Regions from separate parts of the Homo sapiens genome. Here all the other regions are linked to region 4. Evidence: fine-mapped expression QTL. A gene starts in region 4. Each other region holds a variant in brackets. All regions are shown on one strand. Distances are from middle to middle. Region 1 has its middle 15 kb from the start of AQP7. Region 2 overlaps LOC105376020 (a long non-coding RNA gene). Region 3 has its middle 22 kb from the start of AQP3. Region 4 holds the start of AQP3 (aquaporin 3 (Gill blood group)).

The links. PIP is the estimated chance that this variant, and not a neighbour inherited with it, causes the effect.
Region 1: its variant is fine-mapped to the expression of AQP3 in whole blood (TOPMed, PIP above 0.99).
Region 2: its variant is fine-mapped to the expression of AQP3 in whole blood (TOPMed, PIP 0.95).
Region 3: its variant is fine-mapped to the expression of AQP3 in lung (GTEx, PIP 0.90).

Annotation. Positions count from the first base shown.
Region 1 is chr9:33,415,890-33,418,573 of GRCh38, reverse strand. No RefSeq gene overlaps it. Among named protein-coding and RNA genes, the nearest start is that of AQP7, 15 kb to the right of the region's middle. The variant C/T (reference allele first, on the strand shown) is at 1,294.
Region 2 is chr9:33,409,562-33,412,245 of GRCh38, reverse strand. LOC105376020 (a long non-coding RNA gene) reads right to left here. Exons shown (of 3, transcript NR_188543.1): 3 at 1,696-2,006. Among named protein-coding and RNA genes, the nearest start is that of AQP7, 8.3 kb to the right of the region's middle. The variant G/A (reference allele first, on the strand shown) is at 1,573.
Region 3 is chr9:33,424,016-33,426,699 of GRCh38, reverse strand. No RefSeq gene overlaps it. Among named protein-coding and RNA genes, the nearest start is that of AQP3, 22 kb to the left of the region's middle. The variant C/T (reference allele first, on the strand shown) is at 1,313.
Region 4 is chr9:33,446,096-33,448,779 of GRCh38, reverse strand. AQP3 (aquaporin 3 (Gill blood group)) reads left to right here and starts at 1,187. Exons shown (of 6, transcript NM_004925.5): 1 at 1,187-1,357. The coding sequence starts at 1,250. RefSeq lists a silencer at 1,012-1,201.

The DNA of each region.
Region 1 (2,684 bases), 30 kb after region 4:
TGAAGCCTTGGTCTGGCCCTCAGGGCTTTACTCCACCTACCTATAAAGCTTGAGGAGTTTGGTGAACTGGGTCCTGAGGTCCTTCAGGGACCTTCCCGAGTTGCGGAAGGGGTGTCAGCCATGGGGATGGGTGGAAGGTGCCCCCTCAAGCCCCCTCTTCCTGCTGTACTCTCTGACCTGAGTGAGACATTCTACCACAGGGCACTGGCTGGGTTGGGCGTGTCGGCCCGCAGGATGGAAGGCAAGTCTGGACAGGTGGATAGTGGAGCCTCGGCCCCAGGGTGGGGTGTGTGCCCTGGAGAACCAGGAGACAGGCAGGAGCAGATCCTAGGCAAAGATCAGAGGTGGGTGAGGTGGCTCCAGCAGGCCAGCTGCCCTTACCTGGCGACTGTCTCCAGGAATTGCAGAGACAGATACTGGGCTAGGCTAGGTCCTGGCTCTGCGGTAGGGATGGGGAGTGGCTAGAGGGTGGAGAACAGTCCCTTGGTGAGGTCACTTGTATGGTGGGACCCCAGGTAGAGATGGGGTTTTACCAGGTTGGCCAGGCTGGTCTCAAATTCCTGACCTCAAGTGATCTGCCTGCCTCAGCCTCCCAAATTGCTGGGATTACAGGTGTGAGCCACCATGCCCAGCCGAGTGACGCATGTACAAAGTTGACCATGTATTTACAGATACGTCTGGCACAGAGTAGGAGTTGAGGACATTCTTTAGACCCAGCAAGACTTGTCTTGGTAACTAATTGGGTGTGCTGGCAAAGCACAGGAGGAGCCAGGAGGGCTTTTAACCAGCTTCCTTCATCTGGGGGACGATCAACTCACCTGGGCTACTCGGGTTTCCTGGTTTTCTGTCTATGTTTGCAGACTGCCCCTCTGTCCTCAGGGAGTTCCCAGACTTGGGGACAGACTTCTGAGCAGGAATACAGAGGTGAGAGAGGGCAGGAGGGGACAGAGCCCGTCTGGGCCTAGAATGGGGCTCTGTGCTCAATAAGAGGCGCAAAAGGTATGAATTATCAACAAGAAGGGGTTCCATGGGGGGCATAGTTAGGAGTCTCAGGGTTTGGACAGAGGAGAGGAGAGGGATGGGTCCTGCTGCCACCCTGGTTTTTCCCTGAGGCATCTGTACAGAAGCAGAGGTCTGGTAGTAGCCCATGAGGTGCAGCGACAGCTCAGCTGCAGATATATATTGTAAAGGAATAGAGGTGCCTTTCTGGCATGAGTCTTGGCTGAGGGTGTGGGTAGGATTTAATAAGGGTGGAGGTAAGGGGTTTGGGGGCGCTGGAGGCTGGTGGTTGGG[C/T]GGGCCCCACGCAGGGTGTTGGTCCCTTGAAGCCACAGCTGTCAGCTTGTGGCTTCCCATCCTGCTAGCTCAGCAGGTCCCACAGGTTGGCAGGTGACTCACCCCTCACCCTCAAATGGTCCTTGCTCTGAAAGGGGTAGGAGGGATGCAGAATATAGCACCTGTGTGTTCACCTATATGGGCGCAATGCTGTGTTACACACCTGGGTCCAAGATGTGTACCCGTGTCTGACTGAGCATACATAGGGAGTCCCCAGGCACACAGCCCCCTAGACTGTGTGCCACAGGTGCGAAGGGGGCATGTGGCATGGGCGGAGGTAGTGTGGATGAACACACAGCACTTCCCAGAGCACACGCACATGTGACAGGTGTCTTCCTGAAAAGAAGGATTGCAGCTTCAGAGCCTGTCGAGCCATAAGAAGCGGAGGTCTGAGAGGTGGGAAGGGCTCTCTAATGACAGCTCATCTTCCCCAAGAAGGACTTGGCTGGATCAGCTGGCAGAGCTGGGCACCCTAAGCCTGTGGTGACGGCAGCAGCTTCCCTAACCTTATCCCTAAGCTCCCGGCTGCAGGCCAGGGTGGTTCCACTGTCCTAACCCTGAGACGGCATTTACACCCCACAGGCCACACAGGCAGGCTGGGAGCAGTGAGTGGCAGGTGGGCACTCAGTCATTGCTTTCTCTTACCCCCTCTGCAGGCAGGAGGGACGTGAGGGTCCTGGCTGCGTCTGGTCTGAGGGGCTGTGGGGTGAGCACGTCAGCCCCAGGTTGCGCATGCCCCTGGTTTGTGTGGCACTGTATGCACACTCCACAACTTGGTGTGTTGGCCCCTGCCCCGGCACCTGGGGCCTGGTGCTGCCTTCCCATCACACTCCATGATCTGAGAGATGCTTGAAGAGGGCCAAAGAGTCTGGACTAGGAGCCAGGAAGCTCTCACTTGGTGACTTTGGAGATGTCCCTTTACCATGTCTGGGGCTCAATTTGTAGAGGGGCAATAATCCCTGTGGGGTCACCTTGCCAGGCTGCTGGGTAACAGATTCTCATGGAGGCGCACGGAAAGTCAGGAAAGCTCGGTCCTGGAGGCTTCCTATGGGGGATGGTGGTGTCCCCTGTGTTGCTCGGTTGAAGGACTAGGGGCTGAAATCAGATCGCAGCCTCCAGGGAACTTGCACTGCCCCACAGAGGGGTTCAGACCTCCTGGAGATGTGAGGCATTAGAGTTCTGGGGCTGAGCTTCCAAATAAACTTCAAAACAGTGATGTGACAGGCCAAGACCTGCTCTCAGTGAGGCTGGAAAAATCCTTCCACCCATCCCTGCCCATGGGCCCCGACCCTGCTGCTGGAGTGAGCTGCCATGAACTCCAGCCTGAGCCCGGGAACCAGCTCAGATCTTAC
Region 2 (2,684 bases), 37 kb after region 4:
TTGGAATTCTCCATGTTGCCCAGGCTGGCATTGAACTCCTGGGCTCTAATGATCCACTTGCCTTGGCCTCCCACAGTGCTGGAATTAGGGGTGTGGGCCACTGTGCCCAGCCACTTACTCAAAGAAATACAGGGGATGACGGAAAAGCTGAATGACACTACAAAGAAAAAACACAGACAAATCTAGAATGTGGGACTCTTACAGGACTACATTTATTCAGCAAGTCAATGACATGAAAAAATAATGATGGAGAAAGGGGAATTCCTCTTGTTTAAGAGAACATTTAACCCAACGTAATGTGTGACCTTGTTTGGATCCTGATGCAAACAATCCAACAAATCAATGCAAAAAGACACTTTGAAACAATTCCAAGTATTTGATCATTCTATGGAATTGTATATTTTGTCAGGTATGGCACTGATTATTTAAGAAAATGTTCCTATATTTTAGAGGGAACACTGAAGAATGTAGGAATGAAATGACAGAGTAGCTGGAATTTAACATATTTCAGAAAAATAAAAATAAAATAAAATAGGCAGTTTGAGACCAGCCTGGCCAACATGGTGAAACCCCATCTCTACTAAAAATACAAAAATTAGCCGGGCCTGGTGGTGGGTGCCTGTAATTCCAGCTACTTGGGAGGCTGAGGCACAAGAATCTCTTGAACCTGGGAGGTGGAGGATGCAGTGAGCTGAGATCGCTCCATTGCACTCCAGCCTGGGCAACAGAGCGAGACTCCGTCTCAAAAAGGGGAAAAAAATGGCTGTAAAATGGAGAATGAGTGAGGGTGATGCAGGAGAGGTGAGCCCCAAAGTGGGGCTTGGCCTGCGAGGGTTCTCGGCTTTGCCTCTCAAGGGCAATGCAGAGAGAAGTAGAAGAAAACAGCTTTATTGAAGCGGCAGTGTTACAGCTCCATGACTGCCCCTGCACAGCAGGGCTATACAGAGGCGGAGAGCAGCAGCCCAGGGCAGTTTTGCAGTTATATTTATACCCACTTTTAATTGTATGCAGATTAAGAGGCAATTTATGCAGAAATTCCTAGGGAAGGGGTGGTAACTTTTGGGCCATTGGGTCATTGCCATGGAAAGGGGTGATAACTCCCAGGTGTTGAGATGGCAATGATAAATTAACATGGCACATTGGGGCGCATGTCTGATTAGAAAGCTGCTTCCAGCCCTGTTTTAGCTAGTCCTCAATCTGGTCCAGTGTCCAAGCCCCACCTCTGGAGTCAAGTCCCGCCTCCTACTTCAAGGGGGATGCAGACCGGGAGACCCGTGGAGAGGCTCTTGGAGATTAGATTTGGGGCTGATTGAGGGGGCCACGAGAGAGGGAGTAGTTGAGTGACTCCTGGAGGGAAAGCTTCAGAGATGTGGTGGGGAGGAGCATTCCTTGGGCTAGGCCCTTGGGAAGGGGGCAGACTGTGGGGAGGTGAGGTTGGGTTGGGGCAGGTGAAGGTAATGTGCTTGTTACACATACGAGATAACAAGAGAGGAGGCTGGACCACTTGTTCTTGAGCTCCGGGCTGGAGATGGAGGCTGGGGAGGTGGCAGCATTTGCGTGGGGGAAGAGGAT[G/A]TGAGAGCCATGCAGGGCTGCCTTCTCCATGACGCACAGGAGGCACAGGACCCATGAGAATGTTCAATCTAAGGGCCCACAAAATGTTTTAGTTTGCATCCAAATAAGAAAAAGAAGAACTTGTAGGCTGAAGAAAATGTTTTAATATTGATACATCAGGGCCGGCGTGGTGGCTCACACCTATAATTCCACTTATTTGGGAGGCCGAGGCGGGTGGATTGCTTGAGCTCAGGAGTTTGAGACTAGCCTGGGCAACATGGAGAAACTCCGCCTTTACAAAAAATACAAAAATTAGCCAGGAGTGGTGGCAGGCACCTGTAATCCCAGCTACTTGGGAGGCCAAGGCAGGAGAATCGCTTAAGCCCAGGAGGCAGAGGTTGCAGTGAGCTGAGATCGCACCATTGTACTCCAGTCTGGGTGACGGGAGTGAAACCCTGTCTCGGAAAAAAAAAAAAAATTAATATATTTGTCTTTATACCAATAGTTGTAAAATAGAATTAATTATTACTATTATTATTATTTGCTGGAAGAAGGGGCCCAAAAGGGCAAAAATGCCAAGGGCACATATATCTAAAAGAATGGAAAGCATTGGGAGCTAAATGATAAGAACTTACGAACACAAAGAAGGAAAGTGCAGACACGGGGGTCTTCTTGAGGGCGGGAGGAGGGAGAGGAGCAGAAAAGACAACTATTGGGTACTGGGCTTAGTACCTGGGTGATGTAATAATCTGTACAACAAACCACCATGACATGTGTTTACTATATGTCAAACCTTCACGTGTGCCCCCAAACCTGAAATTAAAAAAAAAATAATTGAAAGCAGGATCTCAAAAAGATAATTGCACACCCATGTTCATATCGGCACTATTCCCAATAGCCGAAAGAGGGGAGCAACTCAAGTCCAGGGATAACTGAATGGATAGACAAAATGTGGTACATTCATACAATGGAATATTGTTCAGCCTTAAGAAGAAGGAAATTAGCTGGACATGGTGGTGGGCACCCGTAATCGCAGCTACTTGGGAGGCTGAGGCAGTAGAATCACTTGAATCCAGGAGGCGGAGGTTGCAGCGAGCCAAGATTGTGCCATTGCACTCCAGCCTGAGCAAGCG
Region 3 (2,684 bases), 22 kb after region 4:
GTCACCACCCTCCTGCTGCCCCTTTGTTAGTCAACCACTACTGCCCTACCTCTGCCTCCTCCCGATCATCATCCACATCCTCTGATCTCAAGCCCCTCACTGAGGTCCCCTTGGTGTCTTTCTCTTTGACATGCTCAACATGTGCCCACATTTGAGACTTTGCCCCTGCCTTTCCAGCCTCTGGCCTCCTCTGGGCTTCCTGACCTGGATTTGCTACACTTAGCTTTGCCGTCTGCCCTGGCAAGCGATGCTTCATTTTGACCTCTAGGTGGGCTAGGCCTTGGGCCTAGGCACTTATTCCCAGGGTATTAAATAAATACCAGGTAGAAGCCTTTTCCAGGAAGCCCTGAATCTTCTCTGCATGCACTCATGACAACTGGCAGTTGCCTCTGCCCAGCCTGGCCCTAAAATCTCCATTTATTAACATGACAATTATTTTCCTTTTTAGAATTCCCCAATATATCCCCTTTTTTTTGAGACAGAGCCTCACTCTGTCCCCCAGGCTGCAGTGCAATGGCGAGATCTTGGCTCACTGCAACCTCTGCCTCCCGGGTTCAAGTGATTCTCCTGCCTCAGCCTCCCAAGTAGCTGGGATTACAGGTGTGCACCACCATGCCCAGCTAATTTTTTTGTATTTTTAGTAGAGACGGGGTTTCACCATGTTGGCCAGGCTGGTGTCGAACTCCTGACCTCAGGTGATCTGCCCACCTCGGCCTCCCAAAGTGCTGGGATTACAGGTGTGAGCCACCGTACCCCAACTGTGTTTTTGTTTTTTTTTTTTGAGACGGAGCGTCGCTCTGTCACCTAGGCTGGAGTGCAATGGCCCAATCTCAGCTCACTGCAACCTCCACCTCTCAGGTTCAAGTGATTCTCCTGCCTCAGCCTCCCGAGTAGCTGGGATTACAGGCATGCACCACCATGCCCGGCTAATTTTGTATTTTTAGTAGAGACGGGGTATCACCATGTTGGCCAGGCTCGTCTCAAACTCCTGACCTCAGGTGATCTGCCCTCCTTGGCTTCCAAAAGTGCTGGGATTCCAGGCGTGAACCACCATGCCCGACCCCAGTGTAACCTTATAATTCATCAGTGTCCCCTTATCCTGATGTGATAGCCCCCCAGTACCTTGACACTTAACACTTATAACTAACCACCATTCGTGTAATCATGTGTTTAAGGCTGTCTTGCCCACCAGGCAGGACGCTGTGGGAGGGCAGTAACTATGTTTTGGTCACTGCCAAGTCCCCATAGTGCCTGACTTCCAGTAGGAAATCCATAAATGTCTGTTGAGTTAATAAATACCATTTACCAAGTC[C/T]TTAATATGTGCTGGGCACTATGCTAAGCACTTGATTAACTTGTTTGTTTCCTGTTTTATGTTTGCGGTCCCTTTCTATTTTATGTACTTTTGAGCATTTCAAAGCTTTTTGGCACGGACACTTCTGACAAAGTTCAAACAGAGAAGTGCATTTTCAGTTACTCATCAGAGTGAGGCCACTTAGAGAAAGGCAGTTAGTTACTCACGGAACAGGGAAAACACTTTCTTGTAATTAGGGAAAAGGGAATCTGGGCATGACATGTCAACTCTGTATTTCATCTTCTGTTCTCCAAGGGAGTTTCAAGAAACTGAGGGAAGGCCGGGCGCCGTGGCTCACACCTGTAATCCCAGCACTTCAGGAGGCCGAGGCGGGCGGATCATGAGGTCAGGAGATAGAGACCATCCTGGCTAACACAGTGAAACCCTGTCTCTACTAAAAATACAAAAAATTAGCCGGGCGTGGTGGTGGACGCCTGTAGTCCCAGCTACTCAGGAGGCTGAGGCAGGAGAATGGCGTGAACCCAGGAGGTGGAGGTTGCAGTGAGCCAAGATCGGGCCACTGCACTCCAGCCTGGGCGACACAGCGATACTCCGTCTCAAAAAAAAAAAAAAAAGAATCAAAAAAATAAAGAATAAAAAAAAAACATAAACTGAGGGCTAAGAGGATGGGGCTCGGGGTTCCTGAAGAAGACCCCTTCTTCTCACCTCTGGAAAGCAAAAACTAGATTCTTTTTTTTTTTTGTTTGTTTTTTTTTTGTTGTTGTGTTCTAGGAAAACTTTATTCATAAACACAGGCAGCCAATAGTTTGCCAACTCCTATTTTAGAACATGAGTGAGAATCATCAATAAAACTACAAATCTTTGCAACAGTCAGAATAAGAAAATAGTGAATTAAAGACTATTAGCATTTCAGCCATCTAGGACAGTGTTCTTCTCATTATCATACGTAAATATTTGTTTTTTTGTTTTTTTTTTTTTAATTGATCATTCTTGGGTGTTTCTCGCAGAAGGGGATTTGGCAGGGTCATAGGACAATAGTGGAGGGAAGGTCAGCAGACAAACAAGCGAACAAAGGTCTCTGGTTCTCCTAGGCAGAGGACCCCGCTGCCTTCCGCAGTGTTTGTGTCCCTGGGTACTTAAGATTAGGGAGTGGTGATGACTCTCAACGAGCATGCTGCCTTCAAGCATCTGTTCAACAAAGCACATCTTGCACCGCCCTTAATCCATTCAACCCTGAGTGGACACAGCACATGTTTCAGAGAGCACAGGGTTGGGGATAAGGTCACAGATCAACAGGATCCCAAGGCAGAAGAATTTTTCTTAGTACAGAACAAAATGAAAAGTCTCCCATGTCTACTTCTATCCACACAGA
Region 4 (2,684 bases):
GGCTGAGGCGGGTGGATAACTTGTGGTCAGGAGTTCGAAATCAGCCTGGTCAACATGGTGAATCCCCATCTCCACTAAAAAAACAAAAATTAGCTGGGCATGGTGGTGTGCACCTGTAATCCCAGCTAATCGGGAGGCTGAAGCAGGAGAATCACTTGAACCTGGGAGGTGGAGGTTGCAGGGAGCCGAGATCACGCCATTGCACTCCACCTAGGCGACAGAGAGAGACTCCGTCTAAAAAAAAAAAAGAGACAGACTCTTCCTTGGCTGGGGGTAAGTCAGATGGGAGAGGAGAGGGTTAAAAACAGCTGGGACTCAGCCTGCTGGCAAACATGTGGCATGTGGCATGTCGGGGCAACTGCAGCTCAGCCTCTGGAGCCATGTGAGCAATGCACGCAGGTACACGTGTGACAAGCTAGGTCACCTAGCCATGTTCAACAGGCATGTGCACAGCCACGAGGAATGCCCAGCCGTACAATTAGGCACACAGGACATCCGCCATGTGTAGACACAGCTGTGGACATAGCTGGCCAGGACATGCGACACACGACGTGCTCATAGCACAGGGAGAAGGGCCCATGAAGTCTGGTTGGAACTCAGCACGTGTGTCTGTGTGCCCACCTGAGTCTGGACTGCTGCCCCTCTGACACTAGCTGTCCCCTTGAAGGGTCGGTGCCTTATCTGTCCTGACAGAAGAGACAGTGTTGCTTCTCACTTGGGGCTCGCAGCCTCCTCCTCCTGCCTCGAACTGAGGATCTGTTGGGTCCAGTCATCCTGGAGAGATGCGGCCAGTTTCTTTCTGACAGGTCTCCTCCTGCCCGCAAGGAAGTGGGGTGATCACAGGGCGCAGGTGGTCTCTATGACAGCTGCATCCTCTCCAGCCATGGCCCTGAACCCTGCCTATAATCCCACCATTGGCTCTCAGATCTGCCTAAGCCTCTCAGCCCCCTTGACGTCCCCTCCCTTAAGCGCCCTCCGAAGGCCACCCGTCCCTCAAAGCTCCTCACACTCCATGCCCGCAGCTCCCTCCACCCGGCGTCCGCACCAGCCTCCCAGCCGAGGTGGGGCGGGGGCGAGGGGGCGCGCACTCCTCGGCGCTCCGGGACTGCAGGGCGGGGCTGCAGGGCGGGCGGGGCCCGTGTCTCCAGCGCTCCTATAAAGGGAGCCACCAGCGCTGGAGGCCGCTGCTCGCTGCGCCACCGCCTCCCGCCACCCCTGCCCGCCCGACAGCGCCGCCGCCTGCCCCGCCATGGGTCGACAGAAGGAGCTGGTGTCCCGCTGCGGGGAGATGCTCCACATCCGCTACCGGCTGCTCCGACAGGCGCTGGCCGAGTGCCTGGGGACCCTCATCCTGGTGGTGAGTGGAGGGAGCCGGGGAAGCCCTTCTCTCTCCAGCCCTTGCACTCCCCAAACTCTCACTTCCCCGAAGGGGCTGTGTTTTCCAAGGTAGCCTGGACCCACCTCCCCAGCTGTGACCCCCACGCTTAACCGCGGAGGATCAAGCTGACTTCCAAAGTCCTCTTCCCCACGGTTCTAACCCCCTCTCTGACAGCTCCGACTCTTGCCAGAATGACAGCTGTTACTCCCCAGTGATAGTGCCGATCGTTTACCCTCCCACAAGTGACTCAGCCAACAGGCTGGGGGCAGCGGTCACGCTTGCAGTCTGGGACAGCCAGCCACTTCCCCTGCCTCCCACACCCCTCCAGATTCCCAGAATCCCAGCCCCCAGATGTAGGGGAGGGGGCGGAGGCAAATGAGCCATTATTAGGTTATTTGGGTCCTGGGTGTCTGGCCTCTAATGAATAATTAAGCCTCAAAAAGTCCAAAGGTTGAAGTGAGTGAGGACAGTTTGCACGAGTGGGGGCAGAGGGTGCAGGCCACATGGGCTGCGAACAGCGAAGTGGGAAGGGAGGCAGATTCTGACGGTAGAAGGGTGGGAGGAAGCTAGGCCCAGGCACAGAGGACGCGTGTCTAAAGTTGCTCACCTGGTGCTCAGCGACTCCCAGGCCCTGTCTGTTATCCAGACAGATGCTGTCAGCGTCTGTGCAGAAGACGACAAGCATTCTGGTTACTCCCTGGCCTCTTGGTTACTCTGTGGGTTCTCTGAGTGAGCATTTCCCTGCCTGAGTTACTCCTCAGTCCTAGTTACTCCTTGGTCACACCAGTTTCACCCTGGTTTTGTTCTGAGTGACTCTGTTTGCACTTCTTAGGTCTGGCAGACCCACCAGTTATGTTCTATTTCCTGTCCCAGTTACTCTGATTTTTCAGCCGCTCATGTGGTTACACCTGTTTTCCTCTGTGTTCAGTTGCTACATTGCAGTGAGTGGGTTACTCCGTTCCTGCCCCAGCCCTGGGTAGTACAGACCAGCTGGCCCACTGTGGACTAGGAAGCCTAACTAAGGGCAAGTAGGGATCCCCAAATGGTTGAGGATCAGGATCTATGGGCAGAGGAGGGCTGAAACCCACTTCTGGCTTCCAAGAATAGGAAGTGGGGAAGCCACAGGGGGCATTTTATCCACAGCCTCCCATAAGATTAGTCGTCCTATCAGCCAGCCCTAGCCCCTCTCTCCTGTGCCAAGAAGGCAATAGGAGGTGGCCTTTATCACTCTCCTGCCTCGGAGCCCTCACTCCTATCGGAGTCCTGAGTCCAGCCACCTGTTTTAGAGCAGCCAGGCTAGGGGAGG